6 separate regions of the Homo sapiens genome follow, and all the other regions are linked to region 3. Evidence: fine-mapped expression QTL. A gene starts in region 3. Each other region holds a variant in brackets. All regions are shown on one strand. Distances are from middle to middle.

What was found. PIP is the estimated chance that this variant, and not a neighbour inherited with it, causes the effect.
Region 1: its variant is fine-mapped to the expression of MYO1C in whole blood (TOPMed, PIP above 0.99).
Region 2: its variant is fine-mapped to the expression of MYO1C in whole blood (TOPMed, PIP above 0.99).
Region 4: its variant is fine-mapped to the expression of MYO1C in whole blood (TOPMed, PIP above 0.99).
Region 5: its variant is fine-mapped to the expression of MYO1C in whole blood (INTERVAL, PIP above 0.99).
Region 6: its variant is fine-mapped to the expression of MYO1C in monocytes (Quach 2016, PIP 0.95).

Annotation. Positions count from the first base shown.
Region 1 is chr17:1,458,693-1,462,692 of GRCh38, reverse strand. No RefSeq gene overlaps it. Among named protein-coding and RNA genes, the nearest start is that of CRK, 4.5 kb to the right of the region's middle. The variant C/G (reference allele first, on the strand shown) is at 2,399.
Region 2 is chr17:1,540,346-1,544,447 of GRCh38, reverse strand. PITPNA (phosphatidylinositol transfer protein alpha) reads left to right here. Exons shown (of 12, transcript NM_006224.4): 5 at 1,421-1,428; 6 at 2,808-2,882. Among named protein-coding and RNA genes, the nearest start is that of PITPNA, 20 kb to the left of the region's middle. RefSeq lists an enhancer at 1,504-2,264. The variant C/T (reference allele first, on the strand shown) is at 2,172.
Region 3 is chr17:1,490,806-1,494,907 of GRCh38, reverse strand. MYO1C (myosin IC) reads left to right here and starts at 2,222. Exons shown (of 32, transcript NM_001080779.2): 1 at 2,222-2,495. The coding sequence starts at 2,421. INPP5K (inositol polyphosphate-5-phosphatase K) reads left to right here. Exons shown (of 12, transcript NM_016532.4): 12 at 1-331. LOC105371483 (a long non-coding RNA gene) reads right to left here and starts at 2,121. Exons shown (of 2, transcript XR_934145.4): 1 at 1,283-2,121; 2 at 214-958. RefSeq lists silencers at 2,967-3,366, 3,447-3,886 and an enhancer at 3,171-3,890.
Region 4 is chr17:1,434,039-1,438,140 of GRCh38, reverse strand. It overlaps CRK (CRK proto-oncogene, adaptor protein), which reads left to right. Exons shown (of 3, transcript NM_016823.4): 2 at 986-1,521. Among named protein-coding and RNA genes, the nearest start is that of CRK-AS1, 12 kb to the right of the region's middle. The variant A/TA (reference allele first, on the strand shown) is at 2,436.
Region 5 is chr17:1,416,079-1,420,180 of GRCh38, reverse strand. No RefSeq gene overlaps it. Among named protein-coding and RNA genes, the nearest start is that of CRK-AS1, 6.5 kb to the left of the region's middle. The variant A/TAAGA (reference allele first, on the strand shown) is at 1,893.
Region 6 is chr17:1,526,992-1,531,093 of GRCh38, reverse strand. The region is part of intron 10 of PITPNA (phosphatidylinositol transfer protein alpha); the gene reads left to right. Among named protein-coding and RNA genes, the nearest start is that of PITPNA-AS1, 12 kb to the right of the region's middle. The variant A/TA (reference allele first, on the strand shown) is at 2,356.

The DNA.
Region 1 (4,000 bases), 32 kb after region 3:
GTCCACTTTATCAGCAGTAACGATGCCTCCAAGAAGCTGATAGATAAGATAGGTATTAAGTGCAATTACATGCTTTATAACTGTGTCGACATTCCTTTCTCTAGCAAACCAGAATGCACGCGAGAATGACATCACAGACATTACCCAGACGTCCGCCTTTTTTTGTTTGTTTGTTTGTTTTTTTGTGACAGAGTCTGTCGCCCAGGCTGGAGTGCAATGGCACGATCTCAAAGTGGTCACTCCAAAGTGGTGGGATGACAGGCGTGAGCCACCGTGCCCAGCCTACTCTGACCTTTTGAGAGGTAACCAGGACTGGTTTGTGCCCTCAGCTCACATCCTGAGGGAAGTCCAGTGACCTCCAGGAAATATCTGCCAATTATGGGAAAAGCTAATGCTGGCTCTAGACAAGAGCTTCCGCCAGTTCTCCATTCATCCTTCCTTCATTCAACCCGGCGCTTTGGGAGGCCGAGGTGGGTGGATCATTTGAGGTCAGGAGTTTGAGACCAACCTGGCCTCCTGAGGCAGGAGAATTGCTTGAACCCGGGAGGTGGAGGTGGCAGTGAGCTGAGATGGAACCACTGTACTCCAGCCTGGGCAACAGGTTTTTGTTTGTTTGTTTGTGTGTTTTGAGACGAGTCTCACTGCATCGCCCAGGCTGGAGTGCAGTGGCGCGATCTCGGCTCACTGCAACCTCTGCCTCCTAGGTTCAAGCAATTCTGCCTCAGCCTCCTGAGTAGCTGTGACTACAGGTGCGTGCCACCACGCCCAGCTAATTTTTGTATTTTTAGTAGAGACGGAGTTTCACCATATTGGACAGGCTGGTCTCGAACTCCTGACCTCATGATCCGCCTGCCTTGGCCTCCCAAAGTGCTGGGATTCCAGGCATGAGCCACCGCGCCCGGCCCATTCAACCAGTATGAATTGAAGGAATGCTTGCAATGTGCCAGGATCTCAGTGAGGCTCTTGGGATATAGCAGGAACAACAAAAAGACCCAAATCCCTGCTCTCATGGAGCTTACACTCTAGCAAAGAATAGACAATACGTAAGGAAAATACCTAACATATTAGAAAGAGATAAGTGCTAGGAAAATAAGCAAAGCAGACAAGGGGAGAGGGAGTGTTGGTGTGTAGTTTGCAGTCAGGCAAGGCCTCACAGAGGAGATGACATCAGAGCGGGGACCTGAACGAGGAGAGGAAGTGACGGCTAGGATCTGGAGCAAGAGTGGTCAAGGCAGAGGGAACAGCAAGGCAAAGCCCTCGAGGAACGTGGAGTCTCCTGAGAGGAAAGGGAAGAAGGCTGGGGGCAGAGAAGAGTGGCAGAGGAAATGGGTACCTTCTCCTTGATTCTGCAAGAAGGCCTTTGTGTGAGCAGCTTCCCTAAAAGATTGCAGCGATGAGAGGAGTTTGCACGCAGCAAAGCAAATAACCCATTCTCGATGGTCCCAGAATCACATTGCCAGTGGGGACATCTTACTGACCTTTCCTGGAAGGCGCAGCATCCTGCCTGTGCTCCTCGCTCCGTCTCTACCCAAGACTCTCCTTGGAGTTCCCCTCACATGGTGCCCCAGAGTTCTCTTTTATTTCTTTATTTAGAGATGGAGTTTCACTCTTCTCACCCAGGCTGGAGTGCAGTGGCTCGATCTCGGCTCACTGCAACCTCTGCCTCCCGGGTTCCAGCAATTCTCCTGCCTCAGCCTCTTAAGTAGCTGGGATTGCACGCGCCCGCCACCACGCCTGGCTAATTTTTTGTGTTTTTAGTAGAGACGGGGTTTCACCATGTTAGCCAGGATGGTCTATTCTTCTTTAAAAAATTCTTTTTTGGCCGGGTGCGGTGGCTCACACCTGTAATCCCAGCACCTTGAGAGGCCGAGGGAGGCGGATCACCTGAGGTCGGGAGTTTGAGATCAGCCTGACCAACATGGAGAAACCCTGTCTCTACTAAAAATACAAAAAATTATCCAGGCATGGTGATACATGCCTGTAATTCCAGCTACTCGGGAGGCTGGGGCAGGAGAATCACTTGAACCCGGGAGATGGAGGTTGCGGTGAGCTGAGATCGTGCCATTGCACGGCAGCCTGGGCAACAGGAATGAAACTCCGTCTCAAAAAAAAAAAATTATTTTTCTTGTAATTTCCGTATGCCCTAGGGAGGGATCTCAGAGGGACTGCTTTGGAACAGGCAGTCTCTGGGTAAGGTCCAGAGCTCACAGACCAGCCAGAATTCACACTGGGACGGCTGCTTCTGCTGGCTCACGGTGCCAGGCTGTCACTAAGCCAGGGTCACGATGAGTCACCTGCAGCAGGAAAGGTGCCCTTGTGCCTCCCAGTCCCCCACCCCCCACTTCCCCAGAGCAGGCCCAAGGGTGTGTAAGGTGAGTCCAGCAGGACTGTGTTATTC[C/G]TTAGACCATAATCCACAGCTTACTGCTTTTTTAAAAATGTAGATTTCTGCCAACCCTTCCTCCCAATTCCTATCTCAGAAAATTGAGGGTAGAGCAGAGTGACCATAGCTGTCTCTCCTTCCAGGATTTGAACCCTAGCTCCTCACTCTGCGACCATGTCTCTCTGGACACATTACTTAAACTCTCTGAGCTTCAGTTTTCTCTTTTGTAAGATGGGGATACTTGTCAAATAAGGTTGTTGAGAGGATTAAATGAGATGATCCATACAAAGGCAGTCAGCACTGTGCCTGGCAGATGGTCATCTCTGAATCAATGTTAGCGGTCCTGAATGCTTCTGGAGCACCTCATAGACTAGCTGCTTGGCCTTTGAGGACATACACAGAACTGCAAATGAAAAATTACAGTAAAATGGGTAAGAGCTGTCATGGGAATAATTTGGACATACTGCTGTTGATGAAGAGAGGGAGTGATGGGATGGTTAAGAAAGGGAAGACATTTGGGCCGGGTGCGGTGGCTCACGCCTGTCATCCCAGCACTTTGGGAGGCCAAGGCAGGCAGATCACAAAGTCAGGAGATCAAGACCATCCTGGCTAACACGGTGAAACCCTGTCTCTACTAAAAAAAAAAAAAAAAAAATTATCCAGGCGCGGTGGCGGGCGCCTGTAGTCCCAGCTACTCGGGAGGCTGAGGCAGGAGAATGGCGTGAACCCGGGAGGCGGAGCTTGCAGTGAGCCAGGATCGCGCCACTGCACTCCAGCCTGGGCGACAGAGCGAGACTCCGACTCAAAAACAAAAAAAAAAAAAAAAAAAAAAAGAAAAAGAAAAAAAGAAAGGGAAGACATTTGAATTTGAGACTCCAAAGTGGGTAGAAGAACATTCCAGGAAAAAGAAACCCAGCATTCACATAGGAGCAGTTAAACGAGACTGTGGACCAGCACAGTGGTACCTCTATAATCCCAGCTACTGAGGAGGCTGAGGAAGGAGGACCCCTGGAGCCCAGGAATTAGAGTCCAACCTGGGCACCATAAGAAGACCTCATCTCTTTTTTTTTTTTTCTGAGACGGAGTCTCACTCTATCGCCCAGGCTGGAGTGCAGTGGCTCGATCTCAGCTCACTGCAAGCTCCGCCTCCTGGGTTCACCCATTCTCCTGCCTCAGCCTCCTGAGTAGCTGGGACTACAGGCGCCCGCCACCACGCCCAGCTAATTTTTTTTGTATTTTTAGTAGAGACCGCGTTTCACCGTGTTAGCCAGGATGGTGTCGATCTCCTGACCTCGTGATCCACCTGCCTCAGCCTCCCAAAATGCTGGGATTACTGGCGTGAGCCACAGCGACCAGCTGACCTCATCTCTTAAAAAAATGATGATTATTATTTTAGAGAGGTGGTCTCACTCTGTCACCTGGGCTGAAGTGCTGTGGCATGATCATAGCTCAATACAGCCTCGAACTCCTGGGCTCAAGTGATCCACCCGCCTCAGGTTCCTGAGTAGCTGGGACTATAGCTGGATGTGCCACCACGCTCGGCTATAAAGAAAAACAATGTTTTTTGAGATGGAGTCTCGCTCTGTCGCCCAGGCTGGAGTGCAATGGCGCGATCTCACC
Region 2 (4,102 bases), 50 kb before region 3:
CAAGGGCTGTCACCCTCATGATTTCGGAAAACCAGGTTGTCAGAACTGAGTGGATCTGTCTCTCGGGGTCTCACAAAGATGAATGTGTAAAAACCCCAGCGCCAGTCTATGAAGTTACACTAAAACGCAGAATTGCTACCGAAACGGGACATTCCCATTCGATGATCAGGGCATTCTTTTCTTGTGGATTCTTCTACATGAGAAACCAAATTATAATCAGAATGCCAATGTGTGGCAAAGAATGTCCGCTTGGCTGAGTGATCAGATTCTTGGGTCCATTGATGAGCACGTCTCGGAGAGGCCGAACTAGGAGAGACTTTCTTAGAGGAGATAGATTCAAAAAAGGTGCTTAGTTGGAGAAGTTTAGTGGCTGGTGTCATCAGACCAGGCCATCCTGGCACTGCTGCCCCCACTCCAGGGATGGCGCTGCCAGAGATGCCACATGCGGGGGCTGGGCCTCCGGGGCCCACCACGGCACAGGAGAATTTCTGCTGACGAGATACTATACCCATGATTTCCTTTTCTTATTCTAACGTGGTTTTCTTGAAGCTGCTAACAGGGCAGTTACTTCAGTGTAGGCCTTTCAGTTGTAATCTTAATCTGGTGCTTCCTTCTAAGTGTCTTTCGTTGGGTATGGGGGAATTACTGACAGTCTTTTGGGTTATTTCTGTGCGTGATAGCTCTTACTCTTTATATTTCAACTTTGCCTCATTTTGTGCTCCGGGGTCACCTTAACTTCAGTTCTGGAGTTTGTTACCCCACACACTCTACAAACATGGCAGTGGGGCAGCCAGCAGAAGTGGACATAGGTCCTAAATTCAGAGGGTACAGAATGAACCGGGCGGTCTCAGGAGCAGAGCTAGTCTGTTCCCCAGTGACATGAGAGGTGCAGTCATTTTCTCTGATAAATAATTGAACCATGCTTTCTAAGGGGTTCCCATTACAATGAGCAGGAGTGCAGAGCCTGGGAGGTTTGATTACAGCGAGAGGAAGGGTGCAGGAGGCAGATACAGTGCATGGCCAAAGCACCCTGCTCTGTGCCCCGGGAGGTAGAGGCTGGGGTAGGGGTGGGAGGCGCCGGAGAACGCTCTGATGCCAGAGTGATGAGTTGCGGCACCTCTGCTGATCAGAGCTGGTCCCTGTCAGTGCCCTGCTGAAAAGAATCCCAAGAAGCCCATAGCGGCGTCGCTTTAATTAAATTCCCTGTTTGGTTTTTTGGGATGTTTGTCTGAGTGAAATTTGAGGGTTGGTGCGTTAAGGTATTTCTGACTCACTGGGGCTTGGAGGTGACCGTGGAATAAGCCACAGGGAGTAAAGTACACTCTGCCATTCGTCCTCCTTGTGGGGGGTGGGGGGCAGATATTTCTTCATCTTCATTAATCTTTTTCTCTCTTCTTTCCATGTCCTTGCCTCGGAGCAGTTATTACAGTAAGTATTGTCAAGGGGGTTGGAACTGTAGATGATGTATAAGAACAGGAGAGAGAAAAATGTAACTGCACTGGTGGTCTTGGGTGTTCTTTCCCTTGGCTGATGTTTGGAGTTGCTGAGGCTCAGTCCTGTCAGTGGACTAACAAGGAACCTGTTAACTGGCATGATGACCTCCTGCTTTAAGCTGCATTGGCCTGCGGCTCCATTAAGTGCATCCTGGCTGTGGGTCTGACATGGACACAGTGGCTCGAGGCCCTGCCTCCCCAGGTCACACCTTTTCAAGGTTGTAGAGAGAGCTCCATTCAACTGACCTGACCGACATCCCTTCCCCATCTGTGCATCTGTTGAGTCCACTGAGCACTGATCCTTGGCAAAGTCGTGAAGTCAGCGGGGTTTCTCTTCCACAGCCGTCCCCTCTGTCATTGCCCACCCGCCCACCATTCAGCACACTCATCTGAGTGCCTTGTCCCTGCCGGTAAACACTGGCTGTCTCTGGGAAACTGGTTCCTGCTGAGGCGTTAATGGGTGAATGTGTTCCTCCTTTGAGAAGTTCCAATTTTTAAGAAGCAGGAAGGGAGGGAGGGAGGCAATAATTAGCTTGAAGGGTTCAGTTACTGAGAAGAAAACTTAAGGCCTTAGCCACAGGCTAGTTGGAGGGAAAGGGGCCATGGTGAGTATCTTCGATGGGTTAGGAAGTCTTCTGTGCTCTTTCCACACTGCTTACTACCCAGAGTGGCTAAATG[C/T]ATGGATTCTGAAGTCAGACGAAACTGTTTTGAGACCCAACTCTGTCGTGATCTCTGTGACTTTTTTTTTTTTTTCGAAACGGAGTCTTGCTGTTGTTTCCTAGACTGGAGTGCAGTGGTGCAATCTCGGCTCCCTGCAGCTTCTGCCTCCTGGGTTCAGGCGATTCTCCTGCCTCAGCCTCCCGAGTAGCTGGGATTACAGGCACCCGCCACCATGCCTGGATAATTTTTGTATTTTTAGTAGAGACGGGTTTCACCACTGTTGGCCAGACTGGTCTCGATCTTGTGACCTCAAGTGATCCGCCCGCCTCGGCCTCCCAAAGTGCTGAGATGACAGGCGTGAGCCACCATGCCTGGCCCGATCTCTGTGACTTTGGTTAAGTCACCTAACCTCTTTGAACCTCATCTGTAAAATGAGGGTGATTCTACAGAGCTCTCAGGCTGGGGTGAGGATTGAATGGGATAATACATGCCTAGTGTGTCGTGGGCTCCCAGTCAAGTTAACTGTTATTACAAGGCAGAGGCTGGAATCTCCTAGCTGCCCATGATCCAGTAATGCCCATCTCCAGTAATGGGAGATGGTTACTCTCAACTGTGAACCTAGTGACTTTCATGTATTTTTTTTCCTTCTTCCAGAATGAGTACATGAAAGAAGACTTTCTGATTAAAATTGAAACCTGGCACAAACCAGATCTTGGCACGCAGGAGAATGTGAGTAGTAGTTCCCAAAAGCCCCAGGGGTGAGGTCTTGAGTCTCTGCCTTGTAGCCTCTCCAGGGCTACCATGGGGTCCTCTCTGTGGTCCTCTTTTGCCTGGCCGGGAAGGCAGTGGCCTCTGCCTAGACCTATCTTACCAGCATGGGATTGCTATGTCTCTGATTTGCAAAATGTGATCTCCGGAACTTTTTATGGGGCCTTCTCGTACTGCTTGGATTGGTGCAGTTCCTGGTACATGGGAGCTATATCTTTAAAAGACCAAAATTACAGTTTTCTATAGAGCACAATTTGCAGTAACTCCCAAAAAATAAAATACACCTATCCTTTAGCATTTCCATGCCCAAGAATTTAGACAGTTATTTTCACATGTGTGAAATAACATATATACAAGGAGACTCATTGCAGTCTTCTTTGTGTAGCCAAAGATCAAAAACAATGTAAGACCATCCTGGGCAACATAACAAGACTCTGTCTCTACCAAAAATAAAAAAAGAATTAGCTGGGCATGGTGGTATGTGCCTGTGGTCCCAGCCACTCTGGAGGCCGAGGCTGGAGGATCATTTGAGGCTGGGAAGTCAAGGCTGCAGTGAGCTGTGACTGCACCACCACACTCCAGCCTGGGCAACAGAGTGACACCCTGTCTCCAAAAACAAAAAAACAACATAAGAGCCCGTTAGACCGGGTGCGGTGGCTCACGCCTGTAATCCCAGCACTTTGGGAGGCCGAGGCAGGCGGATCACGAGGTCAGGAGATCGAGACCATCCTGGCTAACACGGTGAAACCCTGTCCCTACTAAAAATACAAAACAGCCAGGCTTCATGGCGGGCACCTGTAGTCCCAGCTACTCAGGAGGCTGAGGCAGGAGAATGGCGTGAACCCGGGAGTCGAAGCTTGCAGTGAGCCGAGATCACGCCACTGTACTCCAACTTGGGTGACAGAGCGAGACACTGTCTTAAAAAAAAAAAAAGAGAAAAAAAAGGCCCGTTAGTAGGACAACGTTAAATGCATTGTGGTTCAGCCAAATAGTGACATCCTTGCAGCCATGGAAAAACCAATAGAGAGCAGTCTTCAAGTTGACTGTTCAGTGAAGGATGGAAGTTATGAAACAAGGTGTGTGCATGCCGCCCTTCATATTAAAAGAAAAATCCACGCACATGGATGTTTGTATGTAGGATCTCTTAGAGGTGGCTGTTACTAGACTGGGGACGAGGGACA
Region 3 (4,102 bases):
CTCAAGACATTTTGGAGGATCTGGCCCTGGGGTTCTTCAGAGAACACCCTCTAGGGGCTTTGGGGACATGGCCTGTCCCCACATCCAGCACTTGCCTCCGCCATGGTCACTCGGCAGCCCTTTTCCCAGGAGAAGACACCTCTGGGAGCCTGCTCAGTGCTTGTCCTGCCATCCTGTGTCCTGGGACTGAGGGTTACTCCAGTTGCTCTGTGTTGCATACTCTCCCCCGCAAGCCTGTGTATGAAGAATTGTCCCCTGGCTTCCAGCAGGCCATGGCTGGCTGTTTTGTGACTGTTACATTGTGCAGGGGTAATTATTAGCGTGGCTTTTACACTTGCGTGTGACTGATGATTGGGGGGTGGGGGTACGGTGATGGGCCTGGGACTAGCTGTAGATTCCAGGAACAGGGACCCTGTAGATCCCAACTAGACTTCTGTGTCTGAGATTTGCAGAAGTGGCCAGGACTGGGGCTAGGATGAGGTTCTAGAATGGTGAGCCTCTGGGGCCCTAACCAGGTGGAGCATGCCATCTATGCCGGTGGCCGCTTAATGTACTCTGTTAAGTCAAATGAGCTCTTGTTCATCCCTCCTGACCCGCTGCTCTGCATACCCTGGTGTTGAGCCTTCTGCCTGCGTTAACCAGTCCAGAATGCCACCATCTTCTCTTTCTGCCCCACTTCTCCTCAGCCCCTTCTTGCTGAGTTTTCCCCCATGGTAACCTATCCCTGCCCCCAACACATATACCTAGGGACCTCCAAAGCCCTCACTTGCCCACCTGTTCCTTCTCACATGCACAGCCATCACGAGGGTTACTGCATGGCACCCTTCATTGGGCAGATGGGAAAGCCAAGGCTCAGAGAAGTGGTACAGTCTCTTCAAAGTTCCAGGCACCTGTGGTTTCCCACAGGACCAGAAACAGGAATGGGGTCTGAACCCACCCGCAGAGCGGTCTCAGTAGTCTGTAAAATACAGATGATGTCCCTATTCTCAAGATTACTGTGGGAGAACAATTGCAGAAAGTGTATCGCACTAGACCCGCCTCCCCGTTCTGATTAATGCGGCCCCGGGGCTTGACCCCAGGGGTCCCCCCACATGCTCACCTCCCCCGTGGTGAACTGAGGTCGCCACACACCCAGCCTCCTGTGTGGGAGGGGTGAGCCCAGCAGTGATTGAGAGGCGGAAAGGGGAATGGGGGGTGCTCTCCGTCCTCTGGGCCCCAGTCAGGATATGGCCGTTCTGGGTCCACCCCGACCCACTGGGTGGAAACAGGAAATAAGTGAGACCTGGTGTGCACTGGGTCTACGCCTGGCTCCACGGCTGATAAGGGCCATTGTGTGGCCGCCGGGGATGAGCCTGCTCTGGATAGATGTGCTTCCCGGAGGAAGGAAGGAAGGCTTGCTAGCTTTTCCGGGGCGGGGGAAGCTGTGGGGAGAGAGAAGGGTGCCGGGGGGAAGGCCCCTGCCTATGGGGCTGTCGGTGCCAGCACACACCCACGGGACTCAGCCCTTCCTATGCCAGCCTCTCCCTCTGGAAAGGTCTGTTTCCCCTATCCACTTCCCTGTTCTTACTTCCTATAAGGAATGGCTGGAGACTGGAGGGCTCAGTCTCAGGCCAGGAAAGTGTCAGCTGTGATTTAGCAACAATAAAAATAGAAAAGCAGGAACATCAGGGGTGGGGGTCACCTGGGGGTACTGTTGAAACGCAAGGGATGAACAGGGCTAGAGGTTGCCCACACCCAGGGAACCCAGGAACTAACCTCACAAGCTCTGAGGCTCAGAGGAGGGTAAGCCAAGAGCTTCCTCACAGCGGGACAGCCCCCTGTCCGGGCCCTGCATGACCAGGCCCCAGCAGCCCTGGTCTCTCAAACTCATGGTGGGGGCTCACCTGCTGTGGGGGGCAGCCCCGTTGAGGGGATGTGCAGGAAAGCCAGTGCCTACTAACGGGTCCTCTTGGCCTAGGGGAGGGCATGCCGTCTGGTTTGGGGAGTGGGCCCCGTGCTCTCTAGGTGGTACCAGAGAGTGGGCAGGAGGAGGGGCCCAGCCATAGAGCTGCCGTGGGGATGGGGGGAAGGGGAAAGGCGTCCTAGCCTTTGACCTGGAGCCCAGGGTCCCCCATGGGTGGCTGCATCGGCTCCTCTGGTTACCTGGGACAACAGGCATTTCCTCCATCCCCAGCCCCTCCTCTTCCTGCTCCAACCATCCGGGCCAAGAGGCCTCCCAGTCAGACCTGGACGGCTCCAGCCGTGTCCTGAGGAGCTGGACCAGCCACATCCCCTGGGGCTGCAGTTGAAGCAGAACCAAGTGGCCATCCCGGCGTTAGACCGTAGGTTCCTGGTCCCGGAGTGGTCGGAGCCCGCCAGTGGGCAGGCAGCTCTTGCTCACAGGCCGCGGTGCCCAGGCCGCTGGCTCTCCGCAGGGCGGAATGGCGCTGCAAGTGGAGCTGGTACCCACCGGGGAGATCATCCGCGTGGTTCATCCCCACAGGCCCTGCAAGCTTGTAAGCTGGGATGCTCTGGGCTGGGAGGAGGGTGGGAGCGTCTCCCCAAGGCCGGGCAGCCCCTCTCAGGCGAGCCCTCGGGCAAGAGCTGAGCAGCGGGGAGGGGTTCCGATCCTTGGCGGGGCCAGAACAGACTGAACAAGACGGGGTGAGTGGAAGAGTAAGGATGCAAGGGCCACTAGCAGCAGGATTTTTGGAAGTGGAGGTCTGGGCTTGACTCTTCCCCGGCTTCCCGAACCTCAGTGGGCAGAACCGTGAATACTGGGCACAAAAGGCAAGTGCCGGCTGCTGTGAGGTCGAAGGACCAGGGCATGGAAGCTCCAGGCTCAGTCAACGCCCCGCTCCTCTCCAGTCCGCAGGGCTGGGACCGCCCAAGACTCAGAACAGAAGGACGGTGTGGGAGGTGGGTGAAGGGTCACGGGTGGGTAGAAACGGGGGAGCGCGGCCCTGGCCCGGCCCGCAGGAAGGGGCTGGAGATGCAAAGGGCCCGGAGGAGGGAGAAAGTCGGGCGCCCCCACGCCCCCAGCAGCGCGGCGGGGAGCCGGGTCTTCGGCCGGAGGGGCGCGCGCGTGTTCGCTGTGGCCCCGGGAACGGGCCGAGGCGGGGGCCGCACGCACCGAGGCTTCGCGGACGCGGCCGGGGCTGAGGCGGGGCGGGGCGGGGCCGGAGGGTGCGCGGCCCTGCCCGGGATGACGACAGGCTGCGGCCCGGCCCCCGGCGGGCCCTGGGCGGGGAGAGTGCGCCCGGGCCGCGGATCCCCAAGCCCGCCACGCCGCCCAGCCCGGCCCCGCCCGCGCCGGAAGAGCCACGCCGGTGGGTACTCGGGGCGCGGGGACGGCGGCCGCGGGGGGCGGGTGTGGGGAGCGGGCGGCCGGGCCGGGAGCCGCCGTGCACGAGGCAGGGGTCACGGCCGGGGATCGCTGGGGCCGAAGAACGGCCGCGTGGACCCGTGCGGGGGGGGGGGGTCCCACGACCCGGAGGCGCCGGCGCAGCCTGGTGGAGACTTAGATTTACCTGCGGGGAGCGGGAGGCGGGGAAGAGCGGCCTGGGCTGCAGGACCCAGGACCCTGCGCGCCCTTCGGGCCCCGCCCGCAGCCCTGCTCCGCCTCTGGGTTCCGGAGAAGCCGCCTAAACCCGCCCCTTCCCGTTCTCCGCCCCTGGGGCCCAGCGCGCCCCGAGTGTGACGGGCGGGGGGCTCCGGGGTGGCCGGAGAAGGAGGATGGCCACGCGGCCCTCAGTCCTCACGCTCCGGCCTCCCGCGCACACGCCTGGCTCTGAGATTCATTCATTCATCCAGGGGTCCGGGAAGGGGTGACTGAGCCCCACCGTGTGCCTCGCTGCGTGTAGGGAGTGGGAGCCGTCTCCTGGGAGGGACTGACAAGGAAACAGCTGATTCCTGCGGGGTGCGATAAGGAGGCGCTGCGTGTTTGGGAGAATCAGGAAGGGGTTCTGGAGGAGGTGACACCTGAGCCGAGTCTCAGTGAGGTGGGCAGGGAGAGTGCCCCGGGCTGGGGAAGCCGCAGGTGCAGGCACTGAAGCTTGGACTGGCTGGCGACGGTGCGAAGGCCCCCTCCTGGGGGGAGGGGTGGGGGGAGAGGGGACTGGAG
Region 4 (4,102 bases), 57 kb after region 3:
ACGAAAACCACAACAAGAGATAGTTTTTCTTCTTCGGAATTATACATTCTAGATGTGAAGAGAAAAAATGTGTGAGCTCAGTGCAGACACAAGCTCTCTCCACCTTCTGAACAGCAGCAGGGACCCATGAAAAACAAGAGCTTGCTACATTTCCTGAGGTTGAAAAGTAGATGCAGGCCAGGCGCAGTAGCTCACACCTGTAATCCCAGCACTTTGGGAGGCTGAGGTGGGTGGATCACCTGAGATCAGGAGTTTGAGACCAGCCTGGCCAACATGGTGAAACCCCGTCTCTACTAAAAATACAAAAAAAAAAAAAAAAATTAGCTTGTCATGGTGGTGGGAGCCTGTAATCCTAGCTACTCAGGAGGCTGAGACGGGAGAATCGCTTGAACCCGGGAGGCAGAGGTTGCAGTGAGCAGAGATCACGCCACTACACTCCAGCCTGGGCGACACAGTGAGATTTGGTCTCAAAAAAAAAAAAACATGCAACAGAACCTTGAGGCTTACACTGCTCTGTAAATGGGGTAGCGACAGAACATATTTGGAGAATGCAGTGAAAGCCCCCGTCGTTGATCAAGTATGAGAGCACGTCCTGATCAGCCTAGTCTCCTGGCCTCCTCATCCTTCCCTGGGGCTGTAGTGATGGGCATCTTTCTTCCCAGGGGATGTTTCAGCTTCCAAATGTGATGTTGGTGTGCTGTGAAGAGAAGGGGTTATTTTTTCTAGAGTTTTTTTTGCTGATTAAATCTTGACTAAATGTGTATGAGGCATGCATGAAAGCTCCATTTCGGCCAGGCACAGTGGTGGGCTCCTGTAGTCCCAGCTACTCAGGAGTTTGTGGTGAGAGGATCACTTGAGCCCCGGAGGTCAAGACCAGCCTGGGTAACATAGTGAGATCCCAACTCTAAAAAAAATAAAAATAAAATCTGCATTTCATTTCCAGTGTAGTACATCATTAAATAACAGCCTGCTCTGTTTTTTCCAGGGGTGAGCCCCTCCAGACTCCGAATAGGAGATCAAGAGTTTGATTCATTGCCTGCTTTACTGGAATTCTACAAAATACACTATTTGGACACTACAACGTTGATAGAACCAGTTTCCAGATCCAGGCAGGGTAGTGGAGTGATTCTCAGGCAGGAGGAGGCGGAGTATGTGCGAGCCCTCTTTGACTTTAATGGGAATGATGAGGAAGATCTTCCCTTTAAGAAAGGAGACATCTTGAGAATCCGGGACAAGCCTGAAGAGCAGTGGTGGAATGCGGAGGACAGCGAAGGCAAGAGAGGGATGATTCCAGTCCCTTACGTCGAGAAGTATAGACCTGCCTCCGCCTCAGTATCGGCTCTGATTGGAGGTAACCAGGAGGGTTCCCACCCACAGCCACTGGGTGGGCCGGAGCCTGGGCCCTATGCCCAACCCAGCGTCAACACTCCGCTCCCTAACCTCCAGAATGGGCCCATATATGCCAGGGTTATCCAGAAGCGAGTCCCCAATGCCTACGACAAGACAGCCTTGGCTTTGGAGGTACATAACGTGCACAATGTAGAAAGAAGAGATCTGCTGCAGGGTCTCCTCTCGGTCCTCTTAGAGCTTTGTAGCAATGCTGACTACAGCATTGGGATGTTGTAGATGGCAAGCCGCTAAGCACTGATGTTGGCATTGAATGTTGGGTTTTCTCTTCTTCATAGAAAACCTGTTTGGGAATGAGTAAGCTTAAAACTGTATAACTGAATGTTCTTAATTGATCTACTAAACACACTTGGACTACTTTAATAACACCACCTGAATTCACAGGAATTAACCTCAAATGTTTTTCCTCATCTACATCCTCATCTGTTTCTTGCTTTCTGTTTGTCGTTGTCTAAAAGAAGGTGGGTTCAGATGGATTTGAGTGTAATAAGTGGTCTCTATCAAAGCACTTAAATGGAATTTTCCCGCAAAAACTTGTTTTTGCTTCAGGGGACTTGAAGTTCCTTACCACTAATGTTCATTGAGTAGAATCCGGGAGGAAATAGGCCTAGTAGAGGTTTGAAGAGATGCACACCCAGAAGTCCTCATTCCGAGGAGTGGCAGGTGCACGGGTCTTTCTAAATCATTCAAAAAGCCAGTTCTTCCTCAGGAATTAATTTTTGCCTTTACTGATGAAATATCTTTGGCAGCCCACTTCCTTCTGGCCAGCCATTACATGGTGTTAATTCCTTTATTCCTCTCTTCCACGCTCACACCTTGCTCTCCTACCTCCTTCCTTTCTTCTTCCTTCCTCCCTCTCTCCCTTCCTTTCTTTTCAGAAGAATTGATGGTTCAGTGTAAAAGCTAGTACAGACTGGGCACAGTGGCTCACACTTGTAATCCTAGTGCTCTGGGAGGCTAAGGCAGGAAGACCACTTGAGACCAGGTGTTCAAGACCAGTCTGGGAAACATAGACCTCAGCTTTTTTT[A/TA]ACAAAAAGTGAAAAAAAAAAATCACCAGGCGTGGTGGCATGCACCTGCAGTCCTGGCTTGAATGAGAAATGGAATGTATGTTGTCAGAGTTATCACTGCCTCTTGTTCCCATTCCCTGTTTGGAGGAAAATAGATTTCTACCCTCAGGTCTTCCTGTGAGTTCAGATGACGGTAACATCTGGCATGGTGCTGTGTGTATGATGGATCTTACTCCTTTTTATTTTCTTTTTTTTTTTTCCTCTCTGCTTTTTTTTATTTTTATCTGGCCTTACTGAGTCACTAGATGTAACTCTTGACATTTATTACAGACTTTATTAGCACTGGGTTGAAGTAAGTATGAAAACATGGAACAAAGGCTGGGCGTGTGGCTCATACCTGTAATCCCAGCACCTTGGGAGGCCGAGGTGGGCAGATCACTTGAGCTCAGGAGTTGGAGACCGGCCTAGGCAACATGGCAAAACACCATCTCTACAAAAAATTAGCTGGGCATGGTGGCACGTGCCTGTGGTCCCAGCTACTTGGGAGGCTGAGGAGGGAGGATCACCTGAGCCTGAAAGGTCATGGCTGAAGTGAGCTGAGATCATGACACTGCACTCCAGCCTGGGCGACAGGGTGAGACTCTGTCTCAAAAAAAGAAAAAGAAAAAAAGCCATGGAACAAGCCAGCTGACCCAGGAGAAACCAGTTATCATGTGAATTTTGCTTCTATTTGCATTTCCTTTCTCAGAGATTTAATCATGCCTGCCTTAATTAGAGGCTTTACTGCTCAAAAAAATGGTTGAGCTTCTCTACCTGCTGTGAAACACAAATCTCATTAAATAAAGATTTGAGTAGAAAACTAGTTTTATGATTTTAGTAAGTTTTCCTTTTTGATTTGGGTATTGGGTTTTTTTGGATTTTTTTTTTTTTTTTTGGTTCTTTTTGAGACGAAATCTCACTCCATCGCCCAGGCTGGGGTGCAATGGCACGATCTCGGCTCACTGCAACCTCCGCCTCCCAGGTTCAAGTGATTCCCCTGCCTCAGTCTCCTGAGTAGTTGGGATTACAGGCATACCCCATTGTGCCTGGCTAATTTTTGTATTTTTAGTAGAGACAGGGTTTCACCTTGTTGGCCAGGCTGGTCTCAAACTCCTGACCTCAGGTGATCCACCCGCCTCAGCCTCCCAAAGTGCTGGGATTACAGGTGTGAGCTGTCGTGCCTGGCCAATTTCTAGAAATGTCTTTATGTTGAGCTAAAACATATGTACTATGTGTGGTCACCGCTCATCAAGGGTATGGGGAGCTTAGCTTCAGGCATTATCAGTTGAGCTAGAGATCTTTGTGACTCACACCAGAACCAGGGTAAGGCCTATCTCCCAGGATTCTGTGGGATGTTTTTTCTGTTCATGTGGACTGTTAAATCTCAAACACTGGCAGCTTTCCACCAATACTACCCATGCCAGTTTCAGTCCATCTCTGATGCAGGTGAATTGTTAAGGCTGAATTGTCCTCATTTGTTTCCATCAATTTGAAAGACTGTCGATGGGCCCTAGATACACTACCTGTTACTTAGATCAGGGGTCTGCAAACCTTTTCTGTAAAGGTTTTTGAGGGCCTTAAATTCTGTGTCCCAACTCTGCCATTGTAGCAAGAAGGAAATCATAGATAAAACAACAGATGAGCTTGCT
Region 5 (4,102 bases), 75 kb after region 3:
CAGAAGGTCAGGAGTTCGAGACCAGCCTGGCCAACATAGTGAAACTCCGTCTCTACTAAAAATACTAAAATCTGGCTGGGCATGATGGCTCACGCCTGTAATCCCAGCACTTTAGGAGGCTGAGGTGGGTGGATCACAAAGTCAGGAGATCGAGACCATCCTGGCTAACATGGTGAAACCCGGTCTCCACTAAAAATACGAAAAATTAGCCGGGCGTGGTGGCACGCGCCTGTAGTCCCAGCTGCACGGGAGGCTGAGGCAGGAGAATCGCTTGAACCCGGGAGGCAGAGCTTGCAGTGATCCAAGATGGCACCACCGTACTCCAGCCTGGGCAACAGAGCGAGACTCTGTCTCAATTAATCAATCAATAAAATACAAAAATTAGCCAGGCGTTGTGGCGTGCACCTATAGTCCCAGCTACTCGGGAGGCTGAGGCAGATGAATTACTTGAACCTGTGAAGTGGAGATTGTAGTTAGCCGAGATCACGCCACTGCACTCCAGCCTGGGTGACAGAGCAAGACTCCATCTCAGGGAAAAAAAAAAAAAAGATGGGATTAATCAATGGTGATATATATAGACACAGATTTTTTTTTAATTATTTATTTATTTATTTTTGTTGAGATGGAGTTTCGCTCTTGTTGCCCAGGCTGGAGTGTAGTGCTGCGTTCTTGGCTCACTGCAACCTCCACCTCCTGGGTTCAAGCAATTCTCCTGCCTCAGCCTCCCGAGTAGCTGGGATTACAGGCATGCGCCACCATGCCCGGCTAATTTTGAATTTTTAGTAGAAACGGGATTTCTCCATGTTGGTCAGGCTGGTCTGGAACTCCCAACCTCAGGTGATCCGCCTGCCTCAGCCTCCCAAAGTGCTAGGATTACAGGGATGAGCCACCGTATCCGGCCTTTTTTTTTTTTTTTTTTTTTGGCGGGGCGCAGGGTGGGGGGCGGGGACGGAGTTTCACTCTTGTTGTGCAGGCTGGAGTATAGTGGCGCTATCTCAGCTCGTTGTAACCTCTGTCTCCTGTGTTCAAGCGATTCTCCTGCCTCAGCCTCCCGAGTAGCTGGGATTACAGGCACGTGCCACCATACCTGGCTAATTTTTGTATTTTTAGTAGAGATGGGGTTTCACCATTTTGGCCAGGCTGGTCTCAAACCTCCTGACCGCAGGTGATCCACTTTGGCCCCCCAAAGTACTGGGATTACAGGCGTGAGCCACCGCGCCTGGCCTCGTGATTTTTTTTTTTTTCAAGACAAAATTTTCCTCTTGTGCCCCAGGCTGGAGGGCAGTGGCGTGATCTCAGCTTACTCCAACCTTGCCTCCCGGGTATAAGCGATTCTCCTGCCTCAGCCTCCCGAATAGCTGGGATTACAGGTGCACGCCACCAGGCCCTGCTAATTTTTGTATTTTTAGTAGAGATGGTGTTTCACCATGTTGGCTAGGCTGGTCTTGAACTCTTGACCTCAGGTGATCCACCCGCCTCGGCCTCCCAGTGTGCTGGAATTACAGGCGTGAGCCACTGCGCCCGGCCTCTGGCCTGGTGATATTTTTAAAGGTCTCCATGAGTATGAGTCATAAAATACTGATTTGAGGGGACCATAAGAATCATATAAAGGCCTGAAAGCAGGCCAGGTACAGTGGCTTATGCCTGTAATCCTCGCACTTGGGAGGCCTAGGTGGTGGAATCATTTGAGATCAGGAGTTTGAAACCAGCCTGGCCCACGTGGTGAAACACTGTCTCTACTAAAAATACAAAAAAAAATTAGCTGGGTGTGGTGGTGTGCGCCTGTAATCCCAGCCACTTAGGCCGCTGAGGCAGAAGAGTTGCTTGAACCCAAGAGGCTGACGGTGCAGTGAGATTGTGCCACTTCACTCCAGCCTGAGCGACAGGGTAAG[A/TAAGA]CCCTGTCTGAAACAAAACCCAAAACCAAAAAAAACCCTGTTGAATGGCGTGTTCTTTTATATAGTCTACAGTATTCATACCAGCTGTCGTATTTTATGACCTGGACTTCCAGGTTAAATTCTGTTCCTCTTACAGGTATGAAAAGATGAGAGGGGGCCGGTATAGAAGAAAATGTGAAAATAACCATTAACCCTGCTAAGTTTGACAGGGAGAGGCGGAGAAAGTGGCGTGCTGTTGCCACCCATGTTCTGAAGACTGTGAAATGGGAGATAAGGTAGAGGCAAAAAAGAACCTTTAGCCATCTAGAAGTGAAGCTCAAAAACAGAGCAGGCCGGGCGCGGTGGCTCACGCCTCATCCCAGAACTGTGGGAGCCCGAGGCGGGTGGATTATGAGGTCAGGAGATCGAGACCATCCTGGCTAACACGGTGAAACCCCATCTCTACTAAAAATACAAAAAACTAGCCAGGTGTAGTGGCGGACGCCTGAGTCCCAGCTACTCCGGAGGCCGAGGCAGAGTGGCTTGAACCTGGGAGACGGAGTTTGCAGTGAGCCGAGACCACGCCACTGCACTCCAGCCTGGACGTCAGAGTGAGACTCCATCTCAAAAAAAAAAAAAAAAAAGCCAGGTGTGGTGGCAGGTGCCTTTAATCCCAGCTACTCGGGAAGCTGAGGCAGGAGAATCACTTCAACCGGGGAGGCAGAGGTTGCAGTAAGCTGAGATCGCACCATTGCACTCCGGCCTGGGCAACAGAGCGATACTGTCTCAAAAATAAATAAATAATATAAAATTAGCCGGGCATGGTGGGGGATGCCTGTAATCTCAGCTACTCAGGAGGCTGAGGTGGGAGACTCTCTTGAACCTGGGAGGCAGAGGTTGCAGTGAACCAAGACCACACCACTACACTCCAGCCTGGGCGACAGAACCAGACTCCGTTTCAAAAAGCAAACACGCAAAAAATCTATGATACTTAGAAAAAAGGAATGAATGTGATGAGTGTTGTTTTTTTTTTTTTTTTTTTGAGGTGGAGTTTTGCTCTGTTGTCCAGCCTGGAGTGCAATGGTGCCATCTCAGCTCACCACAACCTCCACCTCCCAGGTTAAAGCGATTCTTCTGCCTCAGCGTCCCAAGTAGCTGGGATTCCAGTGCGTGCCACCACGTCCGGCTAATTTTTTGTATTTTTAGTAGAGATGGGGTTTCACCATGTTGGCCAGGCTGGTCTTGAACTCCTGACCTTGTGATCTGCCCACCTCAGCCTCCCAAAGTGCTGGGATTACAGGCGTGAGCCACCATGCCCGGCCCTTTGTTTGTTTCTTTTGAGAGACAAAACTCACTGTTGCCCAGGCTGGGATGCAACAGTGCAACCCGGACTCAGCGCAGCCTGGACCTCCGGGACTCAAGCAATCTGCCCACCTATGCCTCCAAAATAGCTGGGACGACAGTTGCGCACCACCACACCTGGCTAGTTTGTTAATTTTTGGTAGAGATGAGGGTTTTGCTATGGCTGCTCTTGAACTCCTAGGCTCAAGTAATCCTCCTGCCTCAACCTCCCAAAATGCTGGGATTATCTGTGTGAGCTGCCATTCCCGGCTGAATGTGATTTTTTTTGTTTTTTGTTTGTTTGAGATGGGGTCTCACTCTGTTGCCCAGGCTGGAGTGCAGTGGCGTGATCTCAGCTCACAGAAACCTCCGCCTCCTGGACTCAAGCGATCCTCCCACCTCTCAGCCTTCCAGGCAGCTGGGACTACAGGCGCACACCACCATCCCCAGCTAATTTTTGAGGTTTTTTAAAATTACTATTTTTTAAGAGATGGGGTGTTGCTATGTAGCCCAGGCTGGTCTCAAAGGATCCACCTGCCTTGGCCTCCAAACATGCTGGGATTACAGGCCTGAGCCACCACGCCTGGCCAAAGTGAGGTTCTTGATCGTATTTTCTTTTTTTCTTTTCTTTTTTTTTTTTTCCGAGACAGAGTCTTATTCTGTCACCCAGGCTGGACTACAGTGGTACAATCTTGCCTCACTGCAACCTCCGCCTCCTGGGTTCAAGAAATTCTCCTGCCTCAGCCTCCCAAGTAGCTGGGATTACAGGCGCCCACCATCACACCCAGCTAATTTTTGTATTTTTAGTAGAGACGGGGTTTTACCGTATTGGCCAGGCTAGTCTTGAACTCCTGACCTCAGGTAATCCACCTGCCTCAGCCTTCCAAAGT
Region 6 (4,102 bases), 36 kb before region 3:
GGTTCCCTCAGCGCTTCAGAGAGTGAACCTCCTGGCTTTTGCTGTGAAGGAAAGGAGGGTGGTTGCTTGACTTCCAGAGCAGGAGAAGGGAACACCAGTTCCTAACCGTTCTCCATTTGGACTTTCAAAAAGTCACCAGTTTTGAGCCACACCTGGTACTCCCATCTGCAGCGGGACCTGGTGCTTCCAGTTCCTGAGCCTTTGCAGAACCTGCAGCTCCTTCTCCGCTCTCCATCCTCCAGGCACTTAGGTTCAGCTTTTGCTGCTCTGCAAATTAGCTACTGACTCTTCTGTCCTTTTTCCATCTCCCAAAAGGTTGTTAACTGGCTCTTACCTGCTGTGGTGTCCTCTGTTCCTGTTGTCTTCATAGTTTTTATCTTTTTAAATTCCTTTACTGTCATGTCATAGGGTTTGGGGGAGGAATAGAGATAGATGCCTGTCTTCCATGCACCGTGATGAACTGCACACTTGGAATAGGAATTATGACTGTTAGTCTCTAAGCCAGTACATAGTCGTCTAGTGCAGGCAGATTTTGTTTGTGAGTGATGAAGGGTCACTGCAAGGCCACAGTCATCACTGCTGTAACTCTAGTCCCTGTCCGGGCGGACCCACCATTCTTGAATGAGGCTTGAAGATTTGGGAAGCAAGGCATCGAGAGATTAGTTCTTCGCCCTAAAAAGAAAAAATTTCTGGAACTATGTGCCTGTAGGAAAGCAGTTTCTGTCTCTCTCTTTCTCCCCAACTTGCCTTTTTTCTCCCTTTCCCAAGCTCTTACTCTCTTAAGAGGCCCATAATCTGAAAAATGGAAGGAGGTATCTTAAAGGTCATTTGGTCCAATTATATGTTCAGTGCTTGAGTACTCTCTGAAGCTTCCCTACCAGCCTTTGCTTGATTACTGCCTGTAATGGGGAACTCACTGTCTCCCAAATATGGTAGTAATAAAAATATTTGTATTATTAATAGAAGCTAACATTTATTGAGGACTTCCTGTGTGCCTATCACGTATGCTAAGAGTTTCACATGTATTACATCACCCAGTTTTCATGGCAACCTGTAACACAGGTATTAGTTTCATTTTATAGATAAACTGTGGCTCACAGAAGTTGAGGACGTTTTATAATTCACTGAACAAGTACCTCTTGGCCTTTGGCCATTAACTCTTTAGATAATGAGATTCAGAAAAGAGAATTCACTTAAAAAATGTTAAGAAAACTTGTTTTCTTTTTTTTTTTTTCTTTTGAAACAGAGTCTCGCTCTGTCACCCAGGCTGGAGTACAGTGGTGCAATCTTGGCTCATTGCAACCTCCAACTCCCCAATTCAAGCAATTCTCATGTCACAGCCTCCTGAGTAGCTGGGACTACAGGTGCCCGCCACCACGCCTGGCTAATTTTTGTATTTTTAGTAGAGACAGGGTTTCCCCATGTTGCCCGGGCTGGTCTGGAACTCCTGAGCTCAGGTGACCCACCCGCCTCAGCCTCCCAAGGTGCTAGGATTACAGTTGTGAGCCACTGTGCCCAGCCAAGAATCTAAAATTTTATTTTATTTTTTTTGAGACAGAACCTTGCTGTGTCACCCAGGCTGGAGTGGAGTGGCGCCAGGCTGGAGTGCACTGGCACAATGTCAGCTCACAGCAACCTCCACCTCCCAGGTTCTAGCAATTCTCCTGCCTCAGCCTCCCAAGTAGCTGGGACTAGAGGCGCCCGCCACTACACGCCACTAATTTTCTATTTTTAATAGAGAGGGGGTTTCACCATGTTGGCCAGACTAGTCTCGAACTCCTGAGCTCAGGCAATGCACCTGCCTCGGCCTCCCAAAGTGCTGGGATTACAGGCATGAGCCACCATGCCCAGCCTCTAAAACTTTCATAGGAGCTGCAGAGGCTGCAGGATCCCTATATGTGAAGGATGACACTGCCCTCATGGAGTCTCTCTCTCTCTTTTTTTTTTTTTTTTTTTGAGATGGAGTCTTGCTCTGTCGCCCAGGCTGGACTGCAGTGGCGCAATCTCGGCTCACTGCAACCTCTGCCTCCCGGGTTCACACCATTCTCCTGCCTCAGCCTCCCAAGTAGCTGGGATTACAGGTGTGCGCCACCACGCCCAGCTAATTTTTGTATTTTTAGTAGAGATGGGGTTTCACCATGTTGGCCAGGATGGTCTTGAACTCCTGACCTCAGGTGATCCGCCTGCCTCGGCCTCCCAAAGTGTTGGGATTACAGGTGTGAGCCACCATGCCCAGCCACTCAGGGAGTCTTAATTCCCTCCAACCTGCTGGCAGTGATTGCAGACCATCTGGAACATCAGCCAACATCCCCAATTATGGAAGTAGCTTTGTTTTCTTTTCTTTTTTTTTTTTTT[A/TA]AGAGAGACAGTCTCGCTCTGTGGCCTAGGCTAGAGTGCAGTGCTGTGATCATAGCTCACTGCAGCCTTCAACTTCTGGGCTCAAGTGATCCTCCCACGTTAAGCTCCTAAGTAGCTAGGACTTCAGGTCCCACCACTACACCTGACTAATTTTTTTAGAGACAAGATCTCAATATGTTGCTCAGGCTGGTCTTGAATTACTGGTCTCAAGTGATCCTCCCACCTTGGTTTCCCAAAGTGCTGGGATTACCATCATGAGCCACTATACCTGGCCCTGTTTTCTTTTTAAATACAGTTTAAGGCACGGTGGCTCAAAAGCCTGTAATCCTAGCACTTTGGGAGGCTAAAGTTGGGCTGATCACCTGAGGTCAGAAGTTCCAGACCAGCCTGGCCAACATGGAGAAACCCCGTCTCTACTAAAAATACAAAAATCAGCCAGGTGTGGTGGTGTGTGCCTGTAATCCCAGCTACTTGGGAGGCTGAGACAGGAGAATCGCTTGAATCCAGGAGGCAGAAATGGTAGTGAGCCGAGATCATGCTGCTGCACTGTCCAGCCTTGGCGACAGAACAAGACAGGGTCTCACACTGTTGCCTAGGCTGGAGTATGGCAGCCTGAAACGCTTGGATTCAACTGATCCACCCACCTCAGCCTCCCAAGTAGCTGGGACTACAGGTGCAGGCCACCACGCCTACCTAATTTTTAAAATTTTTTTAATTTTTGTAGAGACAGGATCTTGCTATGTTGTCCAGGCTGGTCTCAAACTCCCAGCCACAAGTGATCCTTCCACCTCAGCCTCCCGAAGTGTTGGGATTGTAGGCGTGGGCCAACACACCCAGCCAGCTTCATTTCTGCACCGAACCTTTTATTTTGAAATGATTGAAAGATTCACTTGCAGTTATAAAAAATAACGTGGAAAGATCTATGTACCCTTTACCCAGTTTTTGCCAATGGTAACATCTTGCAAAACTATAGTACAATGTAATAACTCGGATATTAACATTGACACTTTACTATTTTTTTAGATCAAAGGTGTATTTCATACTTAATGGTCAAAATGATTTTCAAAAGATAGAAAAAAAATTTAAAAATAGAAGTCCAAATAACTAATAGGTGAATACATAAATAAAAGTCTTCTTGTTTCAGCCCCTGGCCTCATTCCCTAAAGGAAACCACTGTTAAAAACAAAAACAAACCAGGGCTGGGCACGGTGGCTCACACCTGTAATCCCAGCACTTTGGGAGGCCGAGGCGGGTGGATCACCTGAGCTTGGGAGTTTGAGACAGCCTGAGTAACATGGAGAAACCCCATCTACTAAAAATACAAGAAATTAGCCAGGCGTGGTGGTGCACGCCTGCAATCCCAGCTACTCGGGAGGCTGAGGCAGGAGAATCACTTGAACCCAGGAGGCAGAGATTGCGGTGAGCTGAGATCGCACCATTGTACTCCAGCCTGGGCAACAGAGCGAAACTCTATCTCAAAACAAACCAACCAACCAGGATTGAAGTTTCTATTTTCCTATTTTCACATACACATTTTCTTCAGCCATATTATATGTGTATGTATAGCCTACATTGGCTAAATCTGAGGAACACCACAAACATCAGATAAATCTCTCATGTCGTGTAGGCCCCAGGAAACAGGAAATAAGCATTCTTAGATCATTGTAAGACTGAAGTAATGGGCTGGGTGCGATGGCTCACACCTGTAATCCCAGCACTTTGGGAGGCTGAGGCAGGTGGATCATCT